4 linked regions of the Homo sapiens genome follow. The protein of the gene in region 3 purifies or fractionates together with the protein of the main gene of each other region. This does not show direct contact. Each region holds a gene or a part of one and is shown on either strand. Other genes may lie near its edges.

Region 1 (8,150 bases), on a different chromosome or scaffold from region 3:
ATTCTACCAGAGGTACAAAGAGAAGATGGTACCCTTCCTTTTGTAACTATTCCAAACAACTGAAAAGGAAGGACTCCTCCCTAACTCATTTTATGGAGCCCGCATCATCTTGATACTGAAACTGAGAAGAGATGCAATAAAAAAGGAAAACTTCATGCCAATATCCATAAGGAACATCAAAGCAAAAATCCTCAATCAAATACTGACCAACCAAATCCAGCAGCACATAAAAAACTTACCCTCCATGACCAAGTCAGCTTCATCCCTGGGATGCAAAGCTGGTTCAACATAGGCAAATCAAGAAAAGTAATCCATCACATAAACAGAACCAAAGACAAAACCACATGATTATCTCAATAGATGCAGAAAAGGCCTTTGATAAAATTCAACATCGCTTCACATTAAAAACTCTCAATAAACTAAGTATTGATGGAACATACCTCAAAATAACAAGAGTTATTCATGACAAACCCACAACCAATATCATATTGAATGGGCAAAAGCAAGAAGCATTCCCTTTGGAAACCAATACATAACAAAACTGCCCTCTCTCACCACTCCTGTTCAATATAGTATTAGAAATTCTGGACAGGGCAATCAGGTAAGATAAAGAAATAAAGCATATTCAAATAGGAAGATAGGAAGTCAAATTTTCTCTGTTTGCAGACAACATGATTGTATATCAAGAAAACCCCATCATGTCAGCCCAGAAACTCCCTAAACTGATAAGCAACTTCAGCAAAGTCTCAGGATACAAAATCAATGTGCAAAAATCACAAGCATTCCTTTACATCAATAACAGACAAGCAGAGAGCCAAATCATGAATGAACTCCCATTCACAATAGCTACAAAGATAATAAAATACCTAGGAATACAGCTAACAAGGATGTGAAGGACCTCTTCAAGGAGAACTACAAACCACTGCTCAAGGAATTAAGAGAGGACACAAAAAAATGGAAAAACATTCCAACCTCATGGATAGGAAGAATCAGCATTGTGAAAATGGCCATACTGCCCAGAGTAATTTATAGAATAAATGCTACTTCCATCAAACTACCATTGACATTCTTCACAGAATTAGAAAAAGAAACTACTTTAAATTTCATATGGAATTAAAGAAGACCCCGTATAGCCAAGACAATCCTAAGCAAAAAGAACAAAGCTAGAGGCATCATGCTACCTGACTTCAAACTAAACTACAAGGCTACAGTAACCAAAACAGCATGGTACTGGTCCCAAAACAGACAGACCAACGGAACAGAAGAGAGACCTCAGAAATAACACCACACATCTACAACCATCTGATCTTTGACAAATCTGACAAAAACAAGCAATGGGGAAATAATCTCCTATTAAATAAATAGTGCTGGAAAACTGGCTAGTCATAGGCAGAAAACTAAAACTGGACCCCTTCCTTACACCTTATGCAAAAACTAACTCAAGATGTATTAAAGACTTAAATGTAAAACCCAAAACCATAAAAACCCTAGAAGAAAACCTAGGCAATACCATTCAGGAAATAGGCATGGGCAAAGACTTCATGATGAAAACACCAAAAGCAATTGCAACAAAAGCCAAAATTGACAAATGGTATCTAACCAAACTAAAGAGCTTCTGCACAGCAAAAGAATCATCAGAGTGAACAGGCAATCTACGGAATGGGAGAAAATTTTTACAATCGACTCATCTGACAAAAGTCTAATATTCAGAATTTACAAGGAACTTAAATTTACAAAAACAAACAACCCCATCCAAAAGTGGAGAAAGGATATGAACAGACACTTCTCAAAAGAAGATGTTTACATGGCCAACAAACATGAAAAAAAGCTCAACATCACTCATCATTAGACAAATGCAAATCAAAACCACAATGAGATACCATCTCAGGCCAGTCAGAATGGCAATTATTAAAAAGTCAAGAATAGATAGATGCTATAGATGCAATTGGTGCTAGCAAGGCTGTGGAGAAACAGGTACGCTTTTACACTGTTGGTGGGAATGTAAATTAGTTCAGCTATTGTGGAAGACAGTATGGCAATTCCTTACAGATCTAGAACCAGAAATACCATTAGACCCAGCAATCCCATTATTGGGTATATACACAAAGGAATATAAGTCTTTCTACCGTAAAGCCACATCCACATGTATGTTTACTGCAGCACTATTTACAATGGCAAAGTTATGGAACCAACCCAAATGCCCACCAATGATAGACTGGATAAAGAAAATGTGCTACATATACACCATGGAATACTATGCAGCCATAAGAAGGAATAATATCATGTCCTTTGCAGGGACGTGGATGAAGCTGGAAGCCATCATCCTCAGCAAACTAACACAGGAACAGAACACCAAACACCACATGTTCTCATTCCTAAGTGGGAGTTGAACAATGAGAACACATGGACACAGGGAGGGGAACAACACACACCAGGGACTGTTGCGGGGTGGGGGCAAGGGAAGGGAACTTAGTGGATGGGTCAATAGGTGCAGCAAATCACCATGGCACATGTAAACCTAGATAACAAACCTGCACATTTTGCACGTGTATCCTGGAACTTAAAGTAAAATTTTTAAAAAATAAATTTTAGGGCAAACTAGCTGTGCTGTCTATGAAAATATATTTTGCATTTTTATGGTTCCTTTTACTTCAGCATTTCAAAGACGTTAAACTTATTTAAATTTTCACTATATGAGAAAGGTATTATACCAAGTATCAGTAAGAGATTTTGCCAGAAAAGTAAACCACAGGAAGTTTGAGTGAGTTTTTCACCCAATGAAATATCAATTTGTTTAATATCTGAGAATAGCATTTAGGACTCATGACAGATGTCCATGAATTCAAAATCAATTTCAAGTTAGCATGCCTAAGAAATTTTTAAAAAAACAGTATTCATCATACAACTATGGAACAGAAATTTATAATTTAGTCATAAAATAAAGAGAAACGGTATATTATTTTAATGAGAAAATTTCAAGTATCATTAACTACTGTCTAGGTTTGCTGATGTCAGAAGTGATGGAAAATCTACAGCAGGTGAATCACATTACAGTCTGTAAATTCAATACTAATTTACTAGCATTACTACTTTTGAGAAAGTGCTGAAATTAAATTGCATTTGTTAAATGACAATTGTTAGGGAACCACATCAAATGGAATTATTGTTTCAAAACTGCAATTCAGACAGCCTCCACATTTTGATTTTTGTTGACCTCCAAGAAGTAAAATGTTGACCATTAGATAACGCTTTATGTAATTCTCATAGCTTGAGAAACAGTATACATTTAATAAGAATATATTACCTCATTAATATACTTAGCTAATATAAAATATAATTTTTTCATTCATATATAATATACTGAGTTAATATTATAAGTAATATAATTAGTTAATATAGAAGTTTAAAGTTAATAAAATATAGTTAGTGACTTATTTACCATATTATACTTTATATTTTAATTTTTCCAACTGTTTCAAATATATCATGTTTTATAAAAAACATGTTTGATGGTTATATTCATGTGTTAAATTTCCAAAGCCTTATTTGTCCAGCATGAGGAGATATCACTTCAGGAAAAACAACAACAACAAAAAAAAAACCTTGAACATTCAACATGTTGACATACTTTGCTAATAGATTTTCCCCACATGACCTCAAGTTTGATTTTTATGAATGAAAGCCTTTTGCACTGTTGCACTGACGCATCGGTTGTTACATTAATTGGGGATAAAAGGTGCTTTTAATGAAAATCGTCTGGAAACAAAAGGCAGCATGGGGAAGCAGCAGTTGTCACACTCTTGGACAGAAGGTGGCAGCAGCTGAAGTTCCTGGACTGTTCACAGGCCTTCTCTCTGTGCTTCATATTTTCACTCTTAACCAGCTCCTCACTTAGGTTTTGTTGTTTATTTTTGATTATAAAATAAATTATAACTAGAATAATGTAATTGTGTCAAAATCTGACTAAATAATCCATTCTTAACTAATTTTAATAAACACCAATTTATAAAATAATTTTGTATTTGAGATTGCCTATGATTTTTATTCTTTCATGGATGAGTCCATTTGTGTTTCAATACACACCTTTAAAATTAATGTAGCATTACAATGTTTTAATATCTGTGTGTATGACCTGCTCATTTACTTTTCCCTGAAATATGGGCTCATTCATTCTTTATTCTAGAATATAAAAAAAGACAAACAAACAAAAATCCTTTATCACTCCTCTGTCAAGTTCCAAAAGAATCCTCTTAGAATTTGTATTGAGATTGCTTCAACATTATGAAAACTGATAGGATCAATAGTTCTCCTACTCAAGATCATGATATCATTTACTGACAAGTAAAACTTGTCCCTCAATAAAGTAATATAATTTGACTTTTTAGGTCCTTCACATCTATATTAGACTTATTTCTAGCAGATATAAGAAATAATAAAATAAAATTAACTTTTTAAAAATTATTTGTTTTGTGAATATCTCCTCGTTATTCTACTTTATTTTACATGATGAAAATCTAGAGATTTTTGTATATTTATGTTATATAAAGTAAACATTATTTTGAACTCTCATTATTTTCTATGAATTTTCAGTTGCTCGCTGCAATTTTGTGAATAAAATTACCTATTATTAAGTCTTCATTTCTGTAGCAAGTGCTTTAAATATATTATCATATTTAATCCTCACAAAAAAAACCTTAGGAAATAATATATGGTGTGAGATACATATAACTAACTGTAAAAATATGGGAAAGAGGAGAGACCACTATGAAAATGGTAAGAACTATTTGAGTATGAACTGTTAAAATTATTCCTCAGTTATATCATCCATCTCCAAGCCTTGAACAATCATTGCTTTGCTCCTGGACCTTTTTTTCCAGCTGCTAACTAGTTATTTCTTGCCAAAAATTCACATCAACATATTCAAAAGCAAGCTCATCATCTTTCTTCATGACCATTAAGTAACCTATTTTTCTTCTATGAATTCCTGTAACATTGTGTTTTATCAATTAAATGGTGTTTAGTGCATTCTACTTCCCTCATCTCCCCTGCAGGGTTATTTAACCCTGGAAAGTAGATGCTAATTATTTATAAATCTTTGTAGGCTTTCATTGATCATAAGATAAATAAATTCCAACTTCTCACAGGTCCTCTGACCCGGGGGGAATGGGGGCTGTCATCCCGGGGTGCTGATGACATGCGTGCAACCTTCTCACTCACACTGATGCTTCACATATGGCTCAGCACAGTGAACAATCCTCCTTGCTTCTTCCCTCACCAGGACACACCTACAGAAACAGCCAGTGTAGAATGTAGGACTTTCAGAGAACTAACACAGGCTCTCCCCAGAGGGTCTGTTCTAATGAAGACCAGGGTCCTGTGTGGGATCATAGGGCAATGTACTTTATCACTGATTTAAAACAAAGAAATTGATGGCAGCTTTTCACGCAGGCACAACATAGAGGCAACGTACATCTAGGCTGCCCATAACATGTGCCCCTTTAATAATAAAGATGATCGTCAAATTATGAACTGTCCCTAAAATAGCCTGTAAGTTATCTCATCTACCTGGAAGGGATTGGGCACTCTTAAATACAGTTGTTTCTTCTTTTTTCCCCGAGACGGAGTTTTGCTGTTGTTGCCCAGGCTGGAGTGCAATGGCACGATCTCGGCTCACCGCAATCTCCGCCTCCCGAGTTTAAGCGATTCTCCTGCCGCAGCCTCCCGAGTAGCTGGGATTACAGGCATGCGCCACCACGCCCAGCTAATGTTTTACATTTTTAGTAGAGACGGGGTTTCTCCATGTTCGAACTCATGACCTCAGGTGATCCACCCACCTCGGCCTCCCAAAGTTCTGGGATTACAGGGGTGAGCCACCGCAGCCACAGTTGTTTCTTTAAAGACAAGTGATAATGGCTTAGCCAATATATTACAGAAATGCATTATGTAGTTTATCTTACTATTAAAACCTCCAAAAGAGAAAAATCAATGTAAATTATTGTAGTGGCCCTTCATCCTCAATACATTTTTTTTTTTTGTCAACACCAGTGCCCACCCCTCTGTGTACCTCACCAGGATGCTTACGTCAAACTCATTAAGAGCCGCAGCCAGCTCGCCGATGCCCGTGTGGCCCTTGGCTTCGTCAGTGGGCGAGGTAGCTTGAGCAGCATTGGAGATGCCGGCGATGGCCTCCTGGACTTGTTTGAACACATAATCTCGGTTGGCTCTCGTAGCGGCGACATCTGGGTGGCGGAGAAATGCTTGAGAGGCCGTGTACAGCATTGTGGCATTCTTCTTCAGAGCCCCTCGGGCGGCTGCCATCTCATCCCGACAGTGAGGATCCTTCAGCTCCTGTGTGTGTAACACATGAAAGCTGTCACACACATGAAATTTGCATAGAAATATTTGCAACACAGTTTGGAGTCACAGACTCTTAGTAACACACTGAACTTCAGAAACCCTTGTGCTGTTTCTAGCTGCCAGGCCTTTGCATATACTCTTTTGTTTGTTTGTCTGTTTTATAGAGACAGCTAGGTCTCTATAGTGACCTAGGTTGGAGTACAGTGGTGTTATCAAAGCTCACTGCAGCCTCCATCTCCTGGGCCCAAGTGATCCTCCCTCTTCAACCTCTTAAGTGGCTAGAACTACAGGTGCATGCTTCCACACCAGGCTAGTTAAAAAAAAAAAAGTTGTGGAAGTGGGGTCTGGCTATGTTGCCCAGGTGGGCCTTGAACTCCTGGCCTCAAGGGATTCTCCCACCTCTGCTTCCCAAAGTGCTGGAATGACAGCCATGAGCAACCACACCTGGCCTACTGTCCCTTCTATGTGAAATGCCTGAGCTTTCCTCCTCTGCCCTACCCTTTCACCTGACAGGGCTCCACTGACTTGGCACATCCTCCACCCAACTTTCTAAGCTGTGTCCCCTTTCATCTGTTCCCACAAGACACTCTTCCTCTCCTATCACTAACACTTCCTACTTTACTGTATTTTTTGAGCATATATTTCTCTTCTATAACGTACCTCTAATGACAGCAGGGAGCCCTAGTTTTCTTATTCAGTGGCTCTTTAGTCATTAGCAAAGTGGCTGGCCTATAAGAGGCATTCAATAAAATATTGCTGAGATAATATAAAAACCAAGCCACCAAGAAGGTAAATTGATTGCATGGGCCATACAGTTAGTTATGAACAGACAGAAAACCTGAAAACGTCAGTCTTCTGAGGCCCTACTTGCCTCCATATTCAATTACTGTTACAAATGGGAAACCAAACTTCTGATTTTTGCTCAACACATCAGTGTCCCTTAATTATCATTTTCAGAATAGGGTTCCTGCTTTGTTGTTGTTGACAGCCTCTAATGGCAGCTCATCATTAAGTTTAGAGAACAGAAAATAACAGGCCAAAGATGATTTGTTTTCCTAGTTTTGGATGACAAAATAATACCACTAGGGAGTCTCTTTATTTCCATCTTTAAAGGCTGTTGTTAAGAAAATGTTCAAATGATTTTCAGAAATGTTAAAGCAGTGTTGCTCTTTGAGAGCCATGCAGGATTGCCAGCTGTGTTATCTCTGGGAGAATATTCTTCCAGCTGGAAAACATCAGTAAAGCGTATTTGAACCACTGGGCTTCTCTTCCTATTTGCTCATTTGGCACATGATAGATGAATGACCTGGTAACAAGAAATCACATCTTCTGTTTTGTTGGTCAAAACAATTCTGAGACAAACACATTATATTTGATATCTAAGATTGTCACGAAAATTGGTAATAAATAATGAACAATTTACTGAACCATCTTTTTCCCCCTTTGCTTAAGCATTAAAAGATGGATGCTAGGTAACACAATTTCTAAATTGGGATTATCTAATTTGAGCCCCAGAGATGAAAATGGATAAACAGGTAACAAATATTTGAATGTATTCTCTACTGGGCAATGATTTGGGCACGAGAGGTAGGTTTCTCCCAAACAGTCATGAAAACCTTTATTAATGTCAGAACATCTGGTCCAGAAATTCCATTCCTGGGTATCTATACTAAAAAAAATAATAAAATGGTAAAATAGATCTAAATACAGAAGTGAGAAATGCGGGTTGTGAAAATCTCTCCATAAAACACTTGAAGAAACATGTTTTAATCATAAGAAGAAAACTGGAAACA
Region 2 (5,770 bases), on a different chromosome or scaffold from region 3:
AGGCGCATGCCACCATGCCTGGATAATTTTTTATATTTTTCGTAGAGATGGGATTTTGCCACGTTGGCCAAGCTGGTCTCAAACTCCTGGCCTCAAGTGATCTGCCTGCCTCGGCCTCCCAAAATTCTGGGATCACAGGCGTGAGCCACTGCACCCGGCCTACTGTAGTAGATTTTTAAATAAGTACAGCTTATTTTTCTCCCTCATTATGGAAAAAAAGGAGGGTAGAAAGTGATGAGGGAAAAAAACAAATCATTCATGAGCTTACAGGGTCTCACTGTGTTGCCCAGGCTGGTCTCAAACTCCTGGGCTCGTGTAATCTTCAGGTCTCAGCCTCCCAAAGTGCTTGGATAATAGACATGAGCCACCATACCTAGCTCTTGTAGTACATTCTTAAGTGAAAACCTCATTGGAAATGTAGATTGCCCTAGAGCTGAAAGCGATTTGGCTCTAACCTTCCTTTTTATCTGCCTGCAACCTTCTGTGCCCTTCCCTGCCCCCTGCTGCCTGCTTCCATCTGTCTGTCTCCAGCTGTGAAAGGAGGATGCTGCTGAGGTCAGTGCAGCCTTGTGACCCATGTGTCTAATTTCCAGGTGATTGAGGCTGACCACCACATGGAGAGGATGTTAGAACTCTTTGAACAAAATCGGGATCGAATATTAACTCCAGAGAATCGGAAGCATTGCCCATAGGAGGCAAAAGGTCTATGGCTCATGTCTGAAAAATGCCTGCTGCTGCCAAGTTAGCTATTGGGAGCAATCTGGAAAAACTTGCTCCCAGGAGGGCTTTGTGTCTGGCCAGCTTGATTTTCCTAATGGTCTCATCTCCTTTGCTAGTGTCTTTGTCATGCGTCTCTGGCCCTCGTGGGTAAATGACAAACGGGACCAATGGGTTTGCCAAGCCCTTTGCTGTTCGCAGCCTCACATTCCCCCGGTGCCTCTCCCATGGCTTTGTGCTGCTGAGTCGCTCTCATGAAGCCCTTAGGGAGAGCACCTGTTGTGTGCCTGACACCACGCTGGAGCTGTGTACCAATCGTCTCAGCCTTCATTAGGAGGCCGAGGTAGGAGTCTTATATCCCAGGTGAGGAATTTGAAGCTCAGAAAGGTTGAGGGGCTCCCCAGAGGTCACACAGCCTGTGTGCAGTGGAGCTGGCACCATTCAGACTTTCAGCCGACTCAGCAACTTTCCCTTGCCCTGGGCTGCCTCCTCCTGAGAGCTGTTCCCCACCGCCCTGCCTCTTCCGGTTGGAGGCTCTCATGTCTCTTTGGGGAGAGCTGGCAGTGTGCGGAGCTGATAACATTTTCCCAATATTGAGCAGTTCCCAAGGACAGTCAGCATTTCTAGACTTCCACAAAATTATGCTGCATTTGGCTGGAGCCCGGTGTTCAGTGGTTTCCCTGCCCGAGGTCGCTGCAGCCCCATCTACCACATCTTCATGTGGACATTGAGATTCACATGCTGGCTCCTGAAGGGTGCTCAGTCTCCTTGGTGATTAAGGTCCTGCTTGAACTGCTGCCAACTCCATGTCAGGGAAGTCGCTTTTGGTGCCTGGCTGGTTTGCCCAGAGCCAAGCTGGGGCAAGGGGCAGCCAGCCCTGGCTTCCAAGGCTCCCGTACTGTCTGTGTCCTTGTATAAGGAGCTTTGCTCTTGGAATTACTGAAAGTCTGTGGCCCAAGAGAGAGACACAAGTGGCCTTAAGTCTTTTTGAAGTGTTATTTCATCCAGGGAAATGCCTCGAGCCATAGAGCCTGAAATCATCTTTGTTGGCTCAGAAAATACCTTAGCTTCACTCAGCTGGACTGCATTGAAGGCGAGGCTGCCCCTTGGATCAAGCAGAAAACAAGAGAAAGAAAGAACGTTCCCTTTGGGGATAGTCTGGAAAGTTGGGATTTGCAAATAAAGGCTCTGGAAGCATTGCTGGTCCTGAAGCTTTGGAGGTGGGCAGAGAGAGCTTCAAGAAGACTAGATGCAAACCCTGGAAAGGATTAAGGCTCAACTCTGGAGAAACAGGCCACAGCCTCTCAGAGCAGCTGTTGGCTGTAAATAGAGGTAGCAAGGCCGCTCCCAGGCCCCTGTGAGTGTGGGCACCTGTGCATGCAATGCTCCGACTCTGCAGAGGTGCCAAGTGCCCCTGCTGGGCCAGTCCCAGAGAGTTAGGAAGTCAAGGCCTGCAACTCCTGGTTCTTCCTGTTTGGACCAGTTCTTGTGCCATTGGCAGGATGAGAGGCAGCAGCCAGGCGGGAGCTGTGTCTAGCAGCACCTGTAGCCCACGTGCTGCTAATTAGCTGGAAAACTGGCGAAGGCAGAACCTTTGCTACCAGGAATCTTGACATGTGGGGTCTGTCTTTGAGAATTTGTAAATGAACAGTCCAATATTTCCTCTCGGCTCATTTTGCACATCCATTTTTGGGGAAATGTGATTTCTCTCTCTTTTTTTTTTTTTTTTTTTGCCTAAGGCACAATCTCAAGAGGTCCTGAGACCACGTACCCATGATTTTTTTCTTGCTCTGTGATACCCAATAACTCCTTCACCTAAGCCCTGTTGTTGATTTTGAAGTGCTTCCTAGGCCAGTGATTTTAGCTTCTGCCAGCTGCTTTTGCCAGTAGATTAACGTGTTTTTATTTTTCAAACTCCGTGTTTCCTAACGTGGAGTGTATGGGTCTAAGAGAGCCTGCTGTCCTCCCTGCCTTCCACCTTGGAGAGGAGGCTGGACGCATCAGCAGTGGCCAGGGCAGGTCGCAAAATCTCCCAGCCTAGAGACCACACCTGAAACGGCTGAAGCCAGCTTGCACAAGGGCTGCTGTCCCTCTGCGGCAGGCAGAGCTGGTGGGGGCAGGGGTCACAGAGCAGTCATAGACACCATGGACCAGGGCAGGAGAAGGGCAGATGGCACATGGGCACAACAGGGCCTTGTCCTTAGAGCACTGGGGGGTCATGGCTGGGAGGGGCATGGCAGGGGCTGGCATCCCTGTAGAGCCAGAGGGGCCACCCAGGGCAGTGACATTCCAGATATGTTGGGCTCACCTCATCCTTGCTGTGAGACTGGAGTTCCATGGGGACATGAAGTCAGTACACCGCAGAGCTGCTCAGCTGCTCTACCTCTCGCTGACTTTTTTGTTGCACATATACATTTTCTTTCAATTAGCATTTATTTCAGCTTTTATTTAAGCTTTTTGACAGTACATGTAAAATATATGATTATAACCATTTAAAAATACCTTATGTACCTGGTTTTTTTTGGAAACTAGATAGAAATATATTTATCTTTTACATAAAAGAAGTGTGTAGTGGGGTGGTCCAGGGCTTTGTGGTGGCTTAGTGGCCATCGGGGTCCCAGGCTCTTCCCACCTTTCTCTTTTGGGTCCACCTCTTGGCTCCTGGCTTCCTTCCTCTGGGGCCTGACTGTCCAGGATGGCAGCTGGAGCTCCTGCTCTGGGCACGGTTGGCATCAGAGCCCACTGCTCCCCATCCACTCTTTAATCCAGATGCTGGTAATGTCCCTTTCCAAGGCATAACTAAGATAAGCTGGAAGGTTCTTACGAGGCTTTGCTAGAGGCCCTGGGAGGTGGGGGGAAAGGCAAGAGGGCAGTGCCCACCCATAGACCGGGTCACATGACCTGGCATCAGCGCCGTGGGGTCCTTTGGGCTTCACCTCCCTCTCCCCTCTGCCCCCACGTCATCCCACCCTCATCCTCACCCTCACCATTCCCATCCCGTACCGTAATGTCCCTTGCAAGGCCTAACTCTGTGAGGAATGAAACCACCTCATCCTTGTTCCAATAACATGAGTGACCGAATTTACAAACGAGTGAATGTGGACCTCTGGAAACATTACCCAGCTTGTTTTTACTTTTCACTTTCTCTTTCTGCCCCTTTCATTTCCGTAGGAGCCCTTTACCTAGATGAGAAGTGTCCCCCCGCCTGGGGAATATATCAGTCAGAACAATCTTCCTGCAGACATGCACCATTAGACCCGAGTGACGGTGGTGCCATTTAAACCTCAGAGCAGGTAAAAGGTGGTCCTGAAACCTGTCTACCCACAGGGTGCTATGGAATCTGAATCACTTCTTTTTTCCTAGAGCCCTGGGGTGGGGAGCTCCCTCAAGTGTTCACATGTGTGTGGAATGAGGAACACCCATCTCCTTGGCCCTCTCCACCCTGAAGAGTTAGTTATTAAAATAATTGGCAAGCTCTTGCAAATGTCAGTCATCCATTGTTCAGAATGGAATAGCAATAATACATCCCTGGCTGCCCTGGGCTTGGCCAGGATTACTCACTGAAGGCCTCAGGGTTACTGGCACACACTTTCTTTTCCTAATAATCCCATCCCCTCAGCTTTCCTAAGGCTAGAGTGAATTTCGTGTTCCTTTAGTTTACATAAGATGGTGAACTTGGCAAAAGCTATCATTAAACAGAAGCTAAGAGAAAGCCTATGTCGTGGAATCCAGAATGGGTATTGCCATTCACTGCTGTCCACAGAAGCTGTCTTGAATTTCTTTCTGTGTCTTTTCTTTTTTTTTCTTTAAGACTGTTGTTTACCAGACTGGGCTCTGTGGAACACAGGTGTCCTGGGAGATGGTTAATCATTACAAAATATTGGTAACAATCTAAAGATGCATACATAAGAGAGTGGTCAAATAAACCATTTTCCATTCACATGGTGGAGTACTGTGCAGCTATACAGAAGAATGAGGAAGATCTCTCTGAATGGTTATGAAGTAATGTCTAGGACATAAAGTTATGTGAAAAATGCAATGCCCAAACGAGTGTCTATAGTATGCTACCCTTTATATTAGAAAGAAGAGAGGCCAGGCGTGGTAGCTCACGCCTGTAATCCCAGCACTTTGGGAGGTGGGTGGATCACCTGAGGTCAGGAGTTCAAGACCAGCCTGCAACATGGGGGAACCCCATCTCTACCAAAAATACAAAAAAGTTAGCCAGGCGTGGTGGTGGGCACCTGTAATCCCAACTATTTGAGAGGCTGAGGCAAGAGAATCACTTGAACCCAGGAGTTGGAGGCTGCAGTGAGCCGAGACTGCGCCATTGCACTCCAGTCTGGGCAGCAAGAATGAAACTCCATCTCGAAAAATAAAAAGAAAACCGATAGAAGAAAATACACAGATGCAAAGGAAATATAGGAAGGACGCCCAGAGACAAAATAGGTTGGTGGGTAAAGGCTAGAAAGAAGGGAAGGATGAGACTGGGCTACAGGGATGAGAAGGGAATGACACTTCTTTGAAATATCTTTTTATTTTATTTATTTATTTTTTTGAGACAGGGTCTCGCCCTGTCACCCAGGCTGGAGTGCAGTGGTGTGATCTTGGCTCACTGCAAGCTCCACCTCCCAGGCTCAAGTGATTCTCGTGCCTCAGCCTCCTGAGTAGCTGGGATTACAGGTGTGTGCCACTACGCCTGGCTAATAGTAGAGACAGGGTTTCCCCAGTTTGGCCTGGCTGCTCTCAAGTGATATGCCCACCTTGGTCTCCCAAAGTACTGGGATTAGTGAACCGCTGCACCCAGCCTGAAATGTCTTTTTCTATAACTGACTGTTACATACTGTGATGTAGCAATGTTTCACATACCCTTCACATACTGCCAAAATAAATAAGAGCAACCAGGATGTAGGGAAAACAGAAAACAAAATTACAGATGAACTCCACCATACCGCAGGTGAGTAACATAACCATACTGAAGGGGGCAGGAAAGAACAGAACTAACAAATAACTGTGGAAAACAGTATCTTTACTGGATATGGTAAGAGTAAAGGCA
Region 3 (8,150 bases):
CCTCCTTGATTGGAGAGGGTTTGTGGGTTTAAAAACCAGTTAGAGGTGGAGGAGGGCATAATACACTGGGTTTCATTCCCACATCCGGTTGTATTGTTTAAATGGGAACATTACTGCCACTGTTGGAAGATGTTGCACCAGGAAATTGGGCCTGTTCTCATGGTAGGTAGGAGAATGTTTCAGTGGCCACAAACTTGAGCTATTAATGAGAATGAGGCCAGGTGCAGTGGCTCACCCCTGTATATGCCAACATTTTAGGAGGCCAAGGCGGGCGGATCACCTGAGGTCAGGAGCTCAAGACCAGCCTGGGCAACATGGTGAAAACCCGTCTCTACTAAAAATACAAAAATCAGCTGGGCATGATGGCGAGTGCCTGTAATCCCAGCTACTCGAGAGGCTGAGGCAGGAGAATCGCTTGAACCAGGGAGGTGGAGGTTGCAGTGAGCCAAGATCGTGCCACTGCACTCCAGCCTGGGCGACGGAGGAAGACTCTGTCTCAAAAACAAAAAACAAAAAAACTCCCCAAAAAACAGAATAAAACTTATCTCCATGCTGCTCCAAATCTGTGCTGTCAGAACATGTCAGAATGAGAGGACCTTGGGGGTTACACAGGCCAGCCCCTTCTTTTATGGTTAAGCGTCTGTGTCCCCTAGAAGCTGGCTCTTTTGAAATCTTATAGCAGTTTATGCATTTTCTTATGATGCCTGCTAGTTTCTACCCCATTTCATCTCCATGTGTACACATGTGACTCTAAGCTTTCTGAGGCCAGAATCTCTACTGGGTTTGTCTTTGCATCGTCCACAGTGTCTGAATCAGCGCCCTGCACAAAATGTAAACTCTTCAAATATTGGTTGACTTGCCTGGGCATCTCATCGCACCAAGACTCCTGCCCCTGCCCCTGTCTTTTCATCAGACCATGCTTCTTGTAGACTCCTCATCCAGGGTGCAATATAGTGTAAACCCAGCAGTGTCTTGTTCACAGGGCTCACATGACAGGGCAGCCCTTCCTTGATGGATCTGCTCTCTCCATCCTTGCCTGTGGGGAACAGCTGCTGCTGGTGCTGACCAAGTAGTCACTTGACACTCAGCAAATATGAAGTGTAGCTCTTTATTATTATTTTTTTTTTTAGATGGAGTTTTGCTCTTGTTGCCCAGGCTGGAGTGCAATAGCACAATCTTGGCTCACTGCAACCCTCTGCCTCCTGGGTTCAAACGATTCTCCTGCCTCAGCCTCCCAAGTAACTGGGATTACAGGCGTGTGCCACCACGTCTGGCTAATTTTTGTATTTTTAGTAGAGATGGGGTTTCACCATGTTGGTCAGGCTGGTCTCGAACTCCTGACCTCAGGCGATCCACCCACCTCGGCCTCCTAAAGTGTTGGGATTACAGGCGTGAGCCACCGTGCCTGGCCTGAAGTGTAGCTCTTAATTAGACCATGGACTTTGTACCAAGACCATCAGGTTTGGATCTTGGTTCTGCCTTCAGGAGCTGCATGATCTTCAGCAGGTAACTTAATCTCTCTGTGTCTCAGTTTCCCCATATGCACAATAGTAATACTTTCCTCATGGAGTTGTTGGGAGGATTAAATTAAGTAATACCTAGTAGATACTCAGAAGACCACCTAGCACTTGGTATATGCTAAATTGAAGTAACCATTATTTCGCCTTTTTTTATCTGCTTCTTAGCTCCCACCAGCATTTAAGCTCTTTGAGAGCAGAGATTTTTGTCTCTTTTTGTCTACTCTTATAATATAGTACCTAAACTTTGTAGTACTCTGAAAATATTTGTTGAATTGAATGACTGATTGAGCACCTATGTGCTAGGCACTGTTGCGGATGCTATGGACGTAGCCAAGAACACGGTCTTTAAGAGGCATGCTCTTATGAAGTTTATCTTCTAGTGGGAGAGACAGATAGTAAACAAATAAACGAGTCAACAAAAGAATGTAGGGTGGTGAGGCCGGGCGCGGTGGTTCACGCTTGTAATCCCAGCACTTTGGGAGGCCGAGGCGGGTGGATCACCAGGTCAGGAGATCGAGACCATCCTGGGTAACATGGTGAAACCCCGTCTCTACTAAAAATACAAAAAAAAAAAAAATTAGCCGGGCATGGGGGCGGGCGCCTGTAGTCCCAGCTACTCAGGAGGCTGAGGCAGGAGAATGGCGTGAACCCGGGAGGCGGAGCTTGCAGTGAGCCAAGATCGTGCCACTGCCCTCCAGCCTGGGCGACTAAGCAAGACTCTGTCTCAAAAAAAAAAAGAATGTAGGGTGGTGAAAGAGATACGGGGGAAAATAAAACAGAAGATAGAAAGTGGATGGGACGAGGGTTAGGGTCATAACTTTAGCTCTGAGAAGGTGGCTTTTGGGAGACATGGATGGTGATCTAGGGGGACAGCTTTGTGGACAGAGAGGACTGCAAGAATGATCAACCCAGAGGGGCTGGAGTGTGGTTAGTGATGAATCAGCAGGGGCCAAATTTGTGGCTGTGGTTAGGAGTTTGGATTTTACTTTTGAATTCTGAACAGTGGGAAGTCACTGCATGGGAACTTTTCCTGGGGTCTAGGAGAATATTTGAGTCCACACTAAAAGACAGAACAGGACATTACGAAGAGCGGCTGGAATAGGCTCTCCTTGTCCTGGGAGGTTTTTGAGGCCAGCCAGAGTATTGAGTTTCTTCCCATCAGGTTCCTTATTTCTCTGGCCTGGTCCCCTGAAGATGAGGGAAGCATCAGCTAGGTTGATGACAGTCCTGGTATGTGTGTCTGTGTGTCCTGCATTTTATTGAGCTTCCTTTTTTCCGAGTCCCTAAGTCATCAGCAAACATTTCTTGAGTTGAATGAATGAATGTTGCCAGTGCTTAGCAGCTTGTCGTCTACAGTGGAATGTCTGTGTTCTCTGCTCCTCTCTGTGTGAGTTAAAGCTTCTTATCTTGGCAGTGACTCTTAAGTAGTCTTGGAGTTTTGCAGCCATTCTTCATAAATGCATCAGCGACACACATACATGTATATCACTGTTTCTTTGTTGAGAGTATACCAAGATTGACTGGACAGCTTTCCTACCCCCACCCTATCCCTACTTCTCTGCCAGTCCCTGCCATCACCAGGCCCCTCTATAGAGGGTTGGGCCACACTGGCAACTCTGACCATCTCCTGTTTGATTACTTGATCAGGAACACAGTGGTATCTAGAAAGCATTGGTTGTCTTTCATCTGGGCTGAGCGGAGTTGGGTAACTCAGCAGAGCGCTGAGAGAAATGGCATTTCAAACCCAGGGGCTCCACTCACCAGGAATCCAGAGTGGGACTCTTTAGACTGGGTGCCATTGGCCAGCTTTTCAGATCCCTTTTTGGTCCTCCCATCAGTTGTCCACGATGCCACTTGCTCTGCTAACCTGGAGAGACCAACACAAGTTAGTGGGAATCAAATAGGACGCTTGTGTTGCAGGTCACTTTCAGAGTCCTGGGGCATTTTATTGGCAGAATCTGAAATGCCTGCTAGTCATATGTCATCTGTAGATTTGTAAAAACTAAACGCAGAGTGGGTGCAAGCTTTTTCTCATGTAGCTGGTTTTCTTACTATGAGAATGATACGTGCTCATTTAGAAAATGAGAAAGTGAATGATAGTGGCATTTTACATACACTGTCTCATTTCATCCTCACGGTTTCTGAGATACGTACCATTATTACCATTTTGTATGTTAAGAAGCTGAGGCCTAGAAAAGTTAAGTAAAGTGTTTGAGGTCGAGCTAGTTGGGAACAGAATCAGATTCAAACCAGGCAGTATGACTCCCAGGCAGAGCTCTGAGCACCATGTCATATACTGATTCTCAGCAGAAACCATAGAGAAGAAAGAAAAGCCTCCCTTAAGCCCAATGTAGGTGATACTCTTAGGGTAGTCAGAGTTAACTTGCTGGCTGCTCCAAAGGGTTTGAATCCTAGGCCCTTTCCCTGTCTTGTCTGACCCTGGGCAAGCTAAGTAGCCTCCCTTTGCTTTACTTTCCCTGACTGTAAATGGGGATAATGATACTTGTACCTTCGTAGTTCCCAGGGGCATGGTGGTGTTTGAGCCAAAGTGCTTTTGAACTTCTTTTATGAAAGGGAACTGAGCACCAACTACTGTTATACTCAGTTATTAAAGACCTATTATGCTCTGGTCTTCCATGAAGCCTTGTTAAAAAGGGAAAGACAACAGTCCCCAGAGGGAAGGGTGTCCTTCTGTGGGGGAATAGCTGGACAAAAACATTGTTCTCCCCTTTTGAAGTTTCTTAAGGATTGAGGGTCATACCTGTGGCTCCATTTTTCATGGTTGTGTTGTAGTGTAGAAACTTCTGTAAACAGGTATGTGTTCTGTGCATCATAACATGATTGAGGACCCCCAATGGCAGGGCCAAGAGGGAGTTAAAGGGCTTGGTTTCTAATCTTGGTTCTGATGTTTTTTATAAGCCAGGATCACAGAGACACCAAGAAGTGGTGGTTGTCTTCCATTACTCCTCCCTCCCTCCCCTCCTTCCTTCTAATGACTCATTGATTCAATTAACAAATATTTATTAAGGCTTTATTACAATCTGGACACCATCATAGGTACTAGGAATATCGTGGCAAGCAGGACAAAAATAGTTATTCCCCAGCCGGGCGTGGTGGCTCACGCCTGTAATCCCAGCACTTTGGGAGGCCAAGGCAGGCGGATCACGAGGTCAGGAGATTGAGACCATCTTGGCTAACATGGTGAAACCCCGTCTTTACTAAAAATACAAAAAATTAGCCTGGCGTGGTGGTACGCACCTGTAGTCCCAGCTACTCGGGAGGCTGAGGCAGGAGAATTGCTTGAACGCTGGAGGCGGAGGTTGCAGTGAGCTGAGATTGCACCATTGCACTCCAGCCTGGGCAATAGAGTGAGACTCTGTCTCAAAAAAAAAGAAAAAAAAAAAAGTTCTTCCCCATACCAAGCTCTTAGTCTAGGACCAAAAGGCTTATTATATAGTTGGGATCGTGTGAATGAAGAAAGAATGATTTGATGAGAGTGCTTTGAACTCTTAGGAGGAGAGTCAGGACATGATCTCCAGATGCACACTGGCCCCAGTGGCTACCTGCCCTGAGTGGACATTAAGGTGGGGGGCTGGGTTGGCTTTCCAGAAGAGCAAGGGAAGAGTGAAACAATTAGAGCCCTTCCGTGTCCTGTAACAAAAGCTGTACTTGGTATGGACATCTTGAGAAACAGTGCACACCTCAGGAGCCATGGTTAGCAAGAACTCCCTTCCCACTTAAAGCCTTAACCCTTTGACTGTTAACTTGAGTTTCAGTCAGGGAGAAATGCTCATATTGAGGATTTCTTTTCAAAGTTTTTGCTTGGGGCTGTGGATTTTGAAGTTCTGCCATTAACACGGTGCACTTCTTATGTAACAGGCGCCAGACCTTGTCTCTGCAGAGTTCTCTTCCTGCCCGACACGTCTCTCGCTGCCAACTTTGGAAAGCAGGCATATGGTGGCAGGCGGGCTCTCCACAGTGCTCATGGGGTTCCTGGGGGAACTGATGCACATGGACACCTATGTCCTCTGGCCCCCATTTTGGGTCAATATATACAGATTAGAGTGGGGGCAGGGTTCTTTCTTCCCCAAGCACCAGGCCTTCAGCTCTCTTCAAAGACCAAGGTCAGGGAGGTCTAGCAAGCAGTTCATGTGAAAGCACACAGTGTTCCTCTCTCCCTCCAGCCAGGGCTGGGTAGAGAGGGCAAAGGGCTGGCAGAGGCAGCCACTCACATTTGGAGTGAGAGGAGGGTGCCAGGACAGCGAGGCATATCCTTGTGCGATGTTATTTTCACCAGCCCTTGTCATGTCACTGTATGTGGCACTCCCGGTGCTAATCAGCTGGCCCTTCAAGCTGAGGGGCGGGGCAGCAGCATCCAGCATCTGATTAGGAAGGCAAGGCCTGCACAGCGAGGAGGCCAGGTCACTCAGTGCACCTGGACATCTTCAAGTGTGATTGGAGCCCGCAGTGACGCTGTTTCAGCTAGAAGATTGTGACCCACTTCCATATCCTCTCCCACATGGAGAGCTGGGGAGGAGGCTTTGAGAGCCAGCTCCAATTAAGGTGTTTTTTTCAGGCCCGAGTAGCACCCAAGTGTCTAACCCACATGTTTTCTGCTGCTGGAATCCTGTGGTCAATGTCCTTGACCTGAACCGAATAACCACCCCAGGGCAGATGAAGTTACCACCCCTGAAGTCCTAGATTCCACCAGCAAGGCTTCCTGCAAAGATCAGGATCCCTTGTGGATCAAACACCTCACATAATATGGGCCCCACCCCTGTTCTTCCTGATCAATCACCAAGCAAACCTTGGACCAGTTTCCAAGGAGATACTTAGCCTTGACCTCCCTGCCCAGACAGGCCTCACAGCCACCTGCCTCAGGCAGCCCTGGCTTCCCAGAGACCCATCCTGACCCTGACTTGCACCCTTGCCAAATATCCTAAATATCCTTCTGCTGCAGGAATATGAAATGAGACCTGTTTCTGAACTTCTAGGTTTCTGTTATTCTTTCCAGGTAGATGACATTTTAATGCTTCTCTGTAATTTTACATTTCTTTTTTGTGTGTTGGGGAGGGGCCTGGGGTATGATTTAAATACGTGAAGCTGTTAGTACTGGTAGCACTTAAGCTGGTGAAGTGGTGGGTCTGAGCCCCTGAATAATCCCATTTTACTTACCAAGAAGGGAGCAAAAGTACCTGCCAAGGTCAGCTCTGGCTAGGCCCTATGAGCCTGTTCCTGAGCGTGTGCTCACACTCGGCTTCTGGACTGAGGCAGAAGGTCCTTCTCCCTCCGTGTGTGTTAATACTGTTGGCACTGCCCACAGCCTCCAGGGGCACATAGCCTTCCTCTGGCCGATCGCTGGAGTTGCAGGAAGATGAGGTGCTGGTGATTTTTTGGAAGACATGGTGGGGCTTACAGGCAAGCAAGCTGGCCCCCAGTTCTGCTTTCCTGCACAGAGCAGTCTTCCAGAGTTTGTGGTGGGATGTAAGGGAGCTCGGGCAGCCGGAGCAGTGCAGAGACCTGGCTCCTTCCTCCCTCCTGAGGTCTGCTGCTGCTGGCACAAGGGGTCACGTGTGCCCGTTTGCCTTGTGTTTGCTTTGGGTGCTGGCTTCCCACTCTCACTTCCTAATCTCTAAAGAGGAGTGGCCTGTTAGGTCCATGAGTGGTGACAGTGGAGATTGAAGTGCTTAGCGTCAGGCACCGCACTGCACTGGCAAGAGCACTCAGATGAAGGGTGTTCTTTCATTCTCATCTGACCGCATTCCACTTCATTTAAAAACATCATTCGCCCAGGCTGGAGTGTGGTGACACGATCACAGCTCACCGTGATCACAGCCTCAACCTCCCAGGCTCAAGTGATCCTCCCATCTCGGCCTCCCAAGTAGTTGGGACCACAAGCACATGCCACCATGCTGTGCTAATTTTTTGTATTTTTAGTAGAGATGGGGTTTCACCTTGTTAGCCAGGATGGTCTCAATCTTGTGATCTGCTCGCCTCGGCCTTCCAAAGTGCTGGGATTACAAGCGTGAGCCACAGCACCCGGCCTCCACCTCACTCATTTTAATGGCATTCTATTGATTGTTTTTTTTTTTTTTCTTGAGACGGAGTCTTGTCGTCCAGGCTGGAGTGTAGTGGTGCAATCTTGCCTCACTTCAACCTCTGCCTCCTGGGTTCAAGGGATTCTCCTGCCTCAGCCTCCCGAGTACCTGGGATTACAGGCATGTGCCACCAGGCTCAGCTAATTTTTGTAGGTTTAGTAAAGGTGGGGCTTTGCCATGTTGGCTAGGCTGGTCTCGAACCCCTGACCTCAGGTGATCCACCCACCTCGGCCTCCCAAAGTTCTGGGATTACAGGCGTGAGCCACCATGCACAGCCATTTCTTTCTTTCTTTCTTTCTTTCTTTTTTTTTGAGACGGAGCCTTGCTCTGTCGCCAGGCTGGAGTGCAGTGGCATGATCTCAGCTCACTGCAACCTCCGCCTCCCGGGTTCAAGTGATTCCCTTGCCTCAGCCCCCCAGGTAGCTGGGATTACAGCCATGCGTCACCATGCCCGGCTAATTTTTTGTATTTTAGTAGAGATGGGGTTTCACCATGTTGGCCAAGATAGCCTTGATCTCCTGACCTTGTGACC
Region 4 (8,150 bases), on a different chromosome or scaffold from region 3:
TTAGAAAATGTTCAGAATCCTTCATGTGACCTGCAAGGCTTTCGTTTTATTTCCTTGAGCATGTCAGGTTCTTTCTTGCCTCAGTAGTTTTGCACACACTGTACCCTATGCAGAACACTCACCCTTCATCTCTTCTCTCCATTGCCACTTCAGTCTCACCCTGCTTTAGGTTAAGCTCTAGTCATCCTTTAGATCAGTTGTGTCCAATCAAGATATAATGCGAGGCACAATGAAGTTTTAAATTTTCTACAAGCCACATGAATCCTATAGGTCCAAAAGCTATCATTCAGACATGGAGTCAAAGGAGATCATTTTGGAACTTTAAGGTGTAACAACTGCTCTATTGGATTTTGGACTTGCATGGGGCCTGCTGTAGCCCCTTTGTTTTGGCCAATTTCTCCCATTTGGAACAGGTATATTTACCCAATGCCTGTAGCCCCACTGTATCTAGGAAGTAACTAACTTGCTTTCAATTTTCTAGGCTCATAGGCAGAGAGGGCTTGCCTCGTCTCAGATGAGACTTTGGATTTGGACTTTTGGGTTGATGCTGAAATGAGCTAAGACTTTGGGCGACTGTTGGAAAGGGCATGATTATGTTTTGAAATGAGAGGACATGAGATTTGGGAGGGGCCAAGACCAAATTTCATCTTGAATTGTAGTTCCCATAATCCCCATGTGTCATGGGAGGGACCCAGTGGGAGGTAATTGATTCATGGGGACAGTTACCCTCATGCTGTTCTTATGATAGAAAGTGAGTTCTCACGAGGTCTGATGGTTTTATAAGGAGCTTTGCCCCCACTTCACTTATACTTCTCCTTGCTGCCACCATGTGAAGAAGGACATGTTTGCTTCCCTTCCACCATGATTGTAAGTTTCCTGAGGCCTCTCCAGCCATGCTGAACTGTGAATCATTTAAACCTCTTTCCTTTATAAAATTACCCAGTCTCTGATATGTCTTTATTAGCAGCATGAGAACTAATACAATTCTAACACATGATCCATACAAAAATTATTAATAAGGCAATTTACATTCTTTTTTTTCACAGTATGTCTTTGGAATCTGGTGTGTACTTTATAATGAAAGCATATCTCAATGTGAACCAGCCACATTTCAAGTGCTCCATAGCCACATGTGACCAGTGGCTACCGCACTAGATCATGCAGCTTTAGAGCTCAGCTTAAATGTTAGTTCCTGTAGGCCAGTGGTTCTCAAACTTTAATGTATATCAAAATCAAATTAAACAGATTGCTTGGGCCCACTTCCAGAGCTTGATTTAGTAGGTCTGGGGTGGGACTGTGAATATGCATTTCTAGCAAGTCCTCAGGTGATGGTGACATGGCTGGTCCAAGGACCATGTTTTGAGAACCCCTGGCTTTAGACTTCCTCTTCACCCATTGGGAAGTAGGTCAGGCCTGCTGACCTACTCCTGTAGCATCCCGCTTAACCACATTTGGTGCACTTGCGATGGATCCCTTGAGATATATTACCTGTTCAATGGCTATGTGCCCTGTAAGACTGTAAGCTGCATCAAGGCAGGTCTTACTGCTGTATCTCTAGAACCTAGCACATCGCTTGGCACATATGAGGCACTCAGTAGGTGTACTGACTGAACCAAAGTCAGACAGAAATGACTGGATTGTACACATGAGACTAAGGCTTGAGAGTTTTAGTGGTAACTGCCACAGTAAAATCAGTTGGCAGGGCTAAGATGTTAGGAAACTTTAACTTAAGAATCTCAGGGTATTTATGTCAAAACAGGAGCCAAGAATAATTATCCATTATAGTTCTGTACTTTGTACTTTTGTACTATAAGTTTAGTATGTTCATGGATGGCCATAATCTCCACAGAAAAAAATGGAGATTCTGATTGACTTGTTCAAAAACATATGGCCAGTAAATGGCAAACTGGAACTGCAACCCTGGTCTTCTGCCTTCAACCCCCCACTGGAGATATTAGAGTCATGGTTTGAGGATCTTGGCTCACTTGGCTTCACTTCACAGGGGTATCTCCAGTTCCAACTTGTCCTTCCAAACCCAGGCAGCCATTTCATCAAACGCAAACGAACAAGGTGAACATGAAGGAGGGCTCACCTTATTAGTACTCTTGAGAAAAACCTCAAGGCACAAAGTAAGCCAGGCAATAGTCACCCCAACTTATAAAGAGGAACCTTACTAAGAATAAATACTCCCCATCCCAAATTAAAAACTATTCCTTTTCAACCTCAAGCTTTATTTTTTTTGTTTTGTTTTGTTTTTCATAAAAGCTCACCAACCTGTACCTGGTTTCTCATTTATCCCATAGCAAAAGTTACTGGCACTTAAGTACCGATTTTAATCAATAATTTACATCATGTCAAAAAAAGAACACATAGGTTATTGATTTATCCCCCAGGGTGTCTTCCTTTTTAAAGTGTGATCTGGCTTGAAGAAAAAGTTTACTAAGGAAACATCTTTTACACAGCTGTGTATCTTATCCTCCCTCCCCTTCCTCTTGTCCATTTACCTTCCCTTCTAGCCATTCCTTTTTTAGTTTCCTGACACCAAACTTGTGCCTTACCCACTCTACTGAAATGGTGCCTCAAAAGACTACAGGTTAGTTACTTCTTACTAAGTGGAGATCATCTTCTCTCATGACTTCTCTAAAACAGACTACTTCCATCAAGAAAAAAAACCCACTAAGATTTTGGTGTAGCATTTCCTCCAGCTCTTCCACGGTTACATCTTGGTCTTGGGTGTCTGCATTTTCTTACCTACCTGTAAGAGTACTATGAAGATGATCATATTAGTCACAGTAGCCAACATTCACAGAGTGCTCACCTGTGAATGTTAGTTCAATGTTACTTGGCACTGTTTGAATCCTCAACCACCATTCCATGGAGTGGCTACTATGATTACTCCCATTTCACAGATGAAGAAACAGGAGGAAAGGTTAACTTGCCTAAGGTAACAGAGGCTGTAAATGGCAGAGCTGGAATTTAGTCTCGAGAAGTCTGTATCTATGCCCTGAACCATTTTGCTACACTGTCACATTGAAACCTGAGGCTCAGTCTTCAGTTCTTGGAAACCCTTTTCTCACTGCTTTAATCACATTAAAATGGATGACTCATAAATTGAAAGCCCCAAATACTCAGTCGCCCTAGCCTGACCAATTAATTCATTCTTCAAACATTTTGCAGATCCCATTTAGGCATGGCCCAATGCTAGGCCTATGAGGAATATGTAATCCAACAAGAATTATGTCTTCATCTTCAGTACGTGTGTGTGTGTGTGTGTACCTAAAACTCAAAGTAATTCACACCATGAGAAAGCACTTCATTAGTAAAAGAGAGGTGGGATGGGAGAGAATATTTCTGAGTAAGGCTTCGTGGACACAGTATTTTTTAAGCTGGATTTGGAAAGGCAAGGTTTAGATTTACAGAAAAAAGTAAAGGAATTCCAATCTAGGGGAACAGTGAGTGAAGGCAAAGGAACAGGTACATATGGAAAATGGCGAGCCCATTCAAACTGGTTGGAGTATAGCTAGAGTAACCATACATCCTGATTTGCCTAATAGGCAAAAAATATTCTTTCCATAAATGCCACCATAAAATTGAAGTTATGGTTCAAGATTAGCATTCTTTTGGCAAGGTCAAGACAGAGAGGGTAGTTAGGAGAAAGAGGCACATGCATCATTATTACAGAACAGTATTGTCTTAGGCCTGTTTCCCCAACATAATTACTACTAGGGCCCCTTTCACACTTAAGTGTCCCATTTGGAAAATTATATGGCCACTGTAAGTATAGGGTATAATAAGGAAGCAGGAGAAGACTAGCCTAGAAAGATAAGAAAAAATAGTGACACAAAAAAAGCCTGTGCCAAAGCATGTAGGTTTTTCTATACATATTGGGACATCATTAAAAGTTTAGTAGCATGCATTTTAGCAGGATCAGGCAGCACTTACTTACAGAAATAGACAGGAAAACCCAGGAGTATGAACACTAGCTGAGAGGTTTTTGCAATAATTCTGGTAACACAGAATAAAGACTTGGACCAGGACAATGGCCGTTTAAGTGAGATGAAGGAGATAAACGTGAAAGACACTATAGCTTAGCTCAGATGTTAGCAACTTTTTCTGTAAACCACCAAATAGCAAATTTTTTAGGCTTTCTAGGCTATACTGGTCTCTGCCATAATTAGGTACAATTGTATAATTCTGCCATTGCAGCTGAAAGCCACCATACATAATATATAAGTGAATAAATCTGTTTCAATAAAACTTCAGGTATGGACACTGAAATTAGAATTTCATATAATTTTCATGCACATGAAATATTAATTTATTTCAACCGTTTTACATGTAAAACCCATGCATAGTTTGTGGGCTGTTCAAAAACAGGTAGTAGACATATGATCCAGCAAGCCCGCCACTGGGTATACATCCAAAAGAAAGCAAATAAGTATACTGAAGAGATACCTGCACTCCATGTTTGTTGCAGCACTATTCACAATAGCCAAGATATGGAAGCAATCTAAGTGCCCATCAACAGATGAACAGATAAAGAAAATTTGGCACATATATACAATGGAATATCATTCAACCATAAAAAGAACGAAACCCTGTCATTCACAACAACATGGATGGAACTGGAGAGCCTAAGGTTAGGTGAAATAAGTCAGGCATGGAAAGACAAATTTCACATGTTTTCACTCATATGTGGGAGCTAAAAATTTTGAAAATTGAATGTATTGCAATAGCAGAATTATGGTTGCCAGAGGCAGGGAAAGGTAACAGGAGCGAGGGGGTTAAAGTGAGGATGGTTAACAGGTACAAAACTATAGTTAGAATAAATAAGATCAGTATTCAGTAGCACAATAGGGTGATAATAATTTATTGCATTTTAAAATAACTAAAATAATGGAATTAGAATGTTCCCAACACACAAAAAATAAATGCATGAGGTAATAGACAAATGCATGAGGTAAATCAATTACTCTGATTTGATCATTACATATTGTATATCTGTACCAAAACATCACATATACCTATAAATATATACAACTATTATGCATCCATAATTTAAAATTAAAAATGTAAATTTTTTAAAAAACGGTATAGGCCAGAAGCCCTCAATATGCCGATATTGGCCTAGCTGGATCCCACACTTAGATCTACTAATGACATCAGCATTTTTAACCTTTAAGCATCCCGTCATAGAATAATCCCAACATTATGAAATCACTAGATTTTATTCTTGGCCAGAACGGCAAGTACCATGAGTAATGGAATCCCATTCATAATTGTTTTTATTCCTCACAGAAGGCAATACTGAAGACATTTAAATCAGTCTGAGTACTTGACTTTTGCTTAACTAAATTATTTAGGAATAGGTTCAAGATTGAACTATAGGGGAAAACTATAGGATTCATCCTGTTAATCTCCTTCAAAAATATCATCTGTCATTTTGACACACTTTACCCCATTAGACATCTTCATAAATTATCCCATAGTGCCTCACACTTCAGGGGAATGTATACTTGCTCAGGAGTAGGTGCTATGTAATTGCTTTGACAATAAACAAATCAAAGAACATACTTTGCAGGTGACTTATAACTTTCAAAGATCTTTCACTATAAATGTATAGAAATTCCATCTAAGTTAGCTATAAAGCAAAGAATATTCTTTCCATAATGCCACCATAAAATTGAAACATAAAATTATGATTCAAGATTAGCATTCTTTTTGGCAAGACAGGGACTGTAGATAGGGGAGTGATGTACTTGCAAGGCACTGCATTTACTAAGGTTACCCCTCTTAATATTTTTGAGATCCCTAAGTACTTTCAACAAATGTAGCATGATCATCTGCTGCTGCTTCCTACTCCTTCATTAAACTATATAATTCCACATATGAAATTATGTGAAATATAATTTCACATTATATTTCTCCCATAACTGAGGCTCCTCTGTTATAAGTACTCCCCATAACTGAGGCTCATCCTGTCTTCCAAACTGACACTCCTGGGACTTTGCTTCCTCCCTTCCTCACGTGTTTGAAAGTTAATAATGCCTAAGACCCTAGTGGTACAACTCACGGACAAATAGGACAAACTACAGGGTAAAGTCCAACTTAAAAACCTAGTTTTTCTTGTATTTCCAACGTTTAAGCAAGAAATTTGATCAGCAATATAATGTTGAAGTTATATAAAATAAGACAAATAGAACCAGAGTCACTTAGATTCAAAGCTCACATTTAAATATTAGTCAGTTGCTACCCTAGACACTCAGATGACGTTTTCCTTGGTCCAAACCCCTTATTGTGTGGCTTTGAGCAACTTTTAACCCCCACTGCAAGAGGAATCTAACTTTATAGAAGATGGGCTGGCTATTATTTGAGGACAGAGAAAAAGAACCATGTCTTTAACAAAGTAAAAAGGAACAGGTCTCAAGGGAAATGAAATCTGGGGCTCAGTTCCTTAAGGCTTTTAATGTTTCTTTTGAGACGCAGTCTCACTCTGTCGCCCAGGCTGGAGTGCAGTGGCGTGATCTCGGCTCGCTGCAAGCTCCGCCTCCCAGGTTCGTGCCATTGTCCTGCTTCAGCCTCCTGAGTAGCGGGGACCACAGGTGACCGTCACCACGCCCGGCTAATTTTTTTTGTTATCTTTAGTAGAGACAGGGTTTCACCATGTTAGCCAGGATGGTCTTGATCTCCTGACCTCGTGATCTGCCCGCCTCGGCCTCCCAAAGTGCTGGGATTACAGGCGTGAGCCACCGTGCTCGGCCAAGGCTTTTAATGTCTTAACAAACTATGCCTTCCCCCAAATCAAGTTCACTATTAGAAGTTCAAACACAACTGTACCTAAAAGTGTTCCATGGTCTATTACTTTTCCTAAGGCTTTGTAGAAACTTTTTCATCTGTACTTGCAGTTATAAGAACATCATTTTACAGGAGCAAATGTTACCACTTACAGGTGTTTTCCAGACACTAAAACCCTCTCATTCCCCAATCTTACATCTACTAATATTTCCTACTGATTGCTTGTTACAAGAATAACCAACCATACCAGGCAGATCCCTACTCATGGCGAAGAGATATACATATGTAATGAGATGTGCATTTGCTCAGGGCATGTTGCATGTTCCAGCCTGCATGGCATCACCACTGTGGACAACACCCACTCATGACGGACCCCTCCTTCCTATCTCTGGTCATTGTCTTCCCCAGGGTAGTAGCTTTTATCAACACAAACTGTGTCCACCAAATTCCAAAAGTCTAAAGTAAAAACAACCTAGATATGAGCCCAGCTCTGCTACTGACTGACAATGTGATCTTAACTTATTTAAATTCTTTGAACCTCAGGTTCCATATCTATAAAGATGAGGATCATGAAACTACTGTTCTCAGGGGGCTATCAGAAAGATTAAATGAGATTATGGTGAAGCACTCTACCAAAAAGTGAGAGGTAGAATGGAGCAGACTTTGACTAACTCATAAATAATGGCACAGATCTCAGGCCCGTCAAAGCAATCCTACCTTGCCGATGATATGAGCAGAAGCGAAAGCTGGGAATAAAGTAAAATGAAGGGAGGAATTAGAGGAGAAATGCTTAAATTAGGTGGTAGAAGGAGGAATGCAATCAAATATTGTGGGATGGAAGAAGGTGATGGTAAGATACAGTCTCAGAAGCTTACCAAGTACTAATATTCTGCAATCCAAATGCTTTAATGAAGTGGTTAACATTTAATTTATATTTTACAAAGTATGTTTTCCTCATATTTGTGGCTAAGTTTCAGCAGAAGGGTTTTGTTATTAAGTAATACTTTTTGTCCTGCCACCCATATAAACATCTTTCATATCAGATTTCATTCCAAGGATGTTTCAAGAAACCATTCGGTTCAAACACGTTTGTGACCTCTGTTCTTCAGGCCCCAGACACACAAAGATGAAGGCCAGGTGAATTTAGGTGCATCAATCATTACTTAAAATGTGCCTCTTAATCTCAACCAACCACAGCAGGCAAAAGAGGAAGAAAGACTAAAAGCTCTACCCAAACACTAACAGTAGTTGCTTCTAAGTGACATTTTTCTGCCACATTATACTTCGGTATGCTCCAAATTTTCTACAATAATCTGGTTTGGTTTAAATAGGAACACAAAAGAGTATATCCTTGT

The links.
Region 1: the proteins of CTNNBIP1 (region 3) and CTNNA2 purify together in Homo sapiens (co-immunoprecipitation; 3 studies listed by BioGRID and IntAct, with this or other methods). This does not show direct contact.
Region 2: the proteins of CTNNBIP1 (region 3) and TK2 purify together in Homo sapiens (affinity purification with mass spectrometry; 2 studies listed by BioGRID and IntAct, with this or other methods). This does not show direct contact.
Region 4: the proteins of CTNNBIP1 (region 3) and BPGM purify together in Homo sapiens (affinity purification with mass spectrometry; 2 studies listed by BioGRID and IntAct, with this or other methods). This does not show direct contact.

What each region holds. Positions count from the first base shown.
Region 1 is NC_000002.12:79,872,274-79,880,423, reverse strand, and holds part of CTNNA2 (catenin alpha-2), read right to left. Parts: intron 6,349-8,150; coding exon 6,082-6,348; intron 1-6,081. UniProt on the Homo sapiens protein: May function as a linker between cadherin adhesion receptors and the cytoskeleton to regulate cell-cell adhesion and differentiation in the nervous system. Required for proper regulation of cortical neuronal migration and neurite growth.
Region 2 is NC_000016.10:66,506,890-66,512,659, reverse strand, and holds the end of TK2 (thymidine kinase 2, mitochondrial isoform 1 precursor), read left to right. Parts: intron 1-593; coding exon 594-692; 3' UTR 693-4,657; downstream 4,658-5,770. UniProt on the Homo sapiens protein: Phosphorylates thymidine, deoxycytidine, and deoxyuridine in the mitochondrial matrix. In non-replicating cells, where cytosolic dNTP synthesis is down-regulated, mtDNA synthesis depends solely on TK2 and DGUOK.
Region 3 is NC_000001.11:9,899,537-9,907,686, reverse strand, and holds part of CTNNBIP1 (beta-catenin-interacting protein 1), read left to right. Parts: intron 1-8,150. UniProt on the Homo sapiens protein: Prevents the interaction between CTNNB1 and TCF family members, and acts as a negative regulator of the Wnt signaling pathway.
Region 4 is NC_000007.14:134,649,252-134,657,401, reverse strand, and holds part of BPGM (bisphosphoglycerate mutase), read right to left. Parts: intron 1-8,150. UniProt on the Homo sapiens protein: Plays a major role in regulating hemoglobin oxygen affinity by controlling the levels of its allosteric effector 2,3-bisphosphoglycerate (2,3-BPG). Also exhibits mutase (EC 5.4.2.11) activity.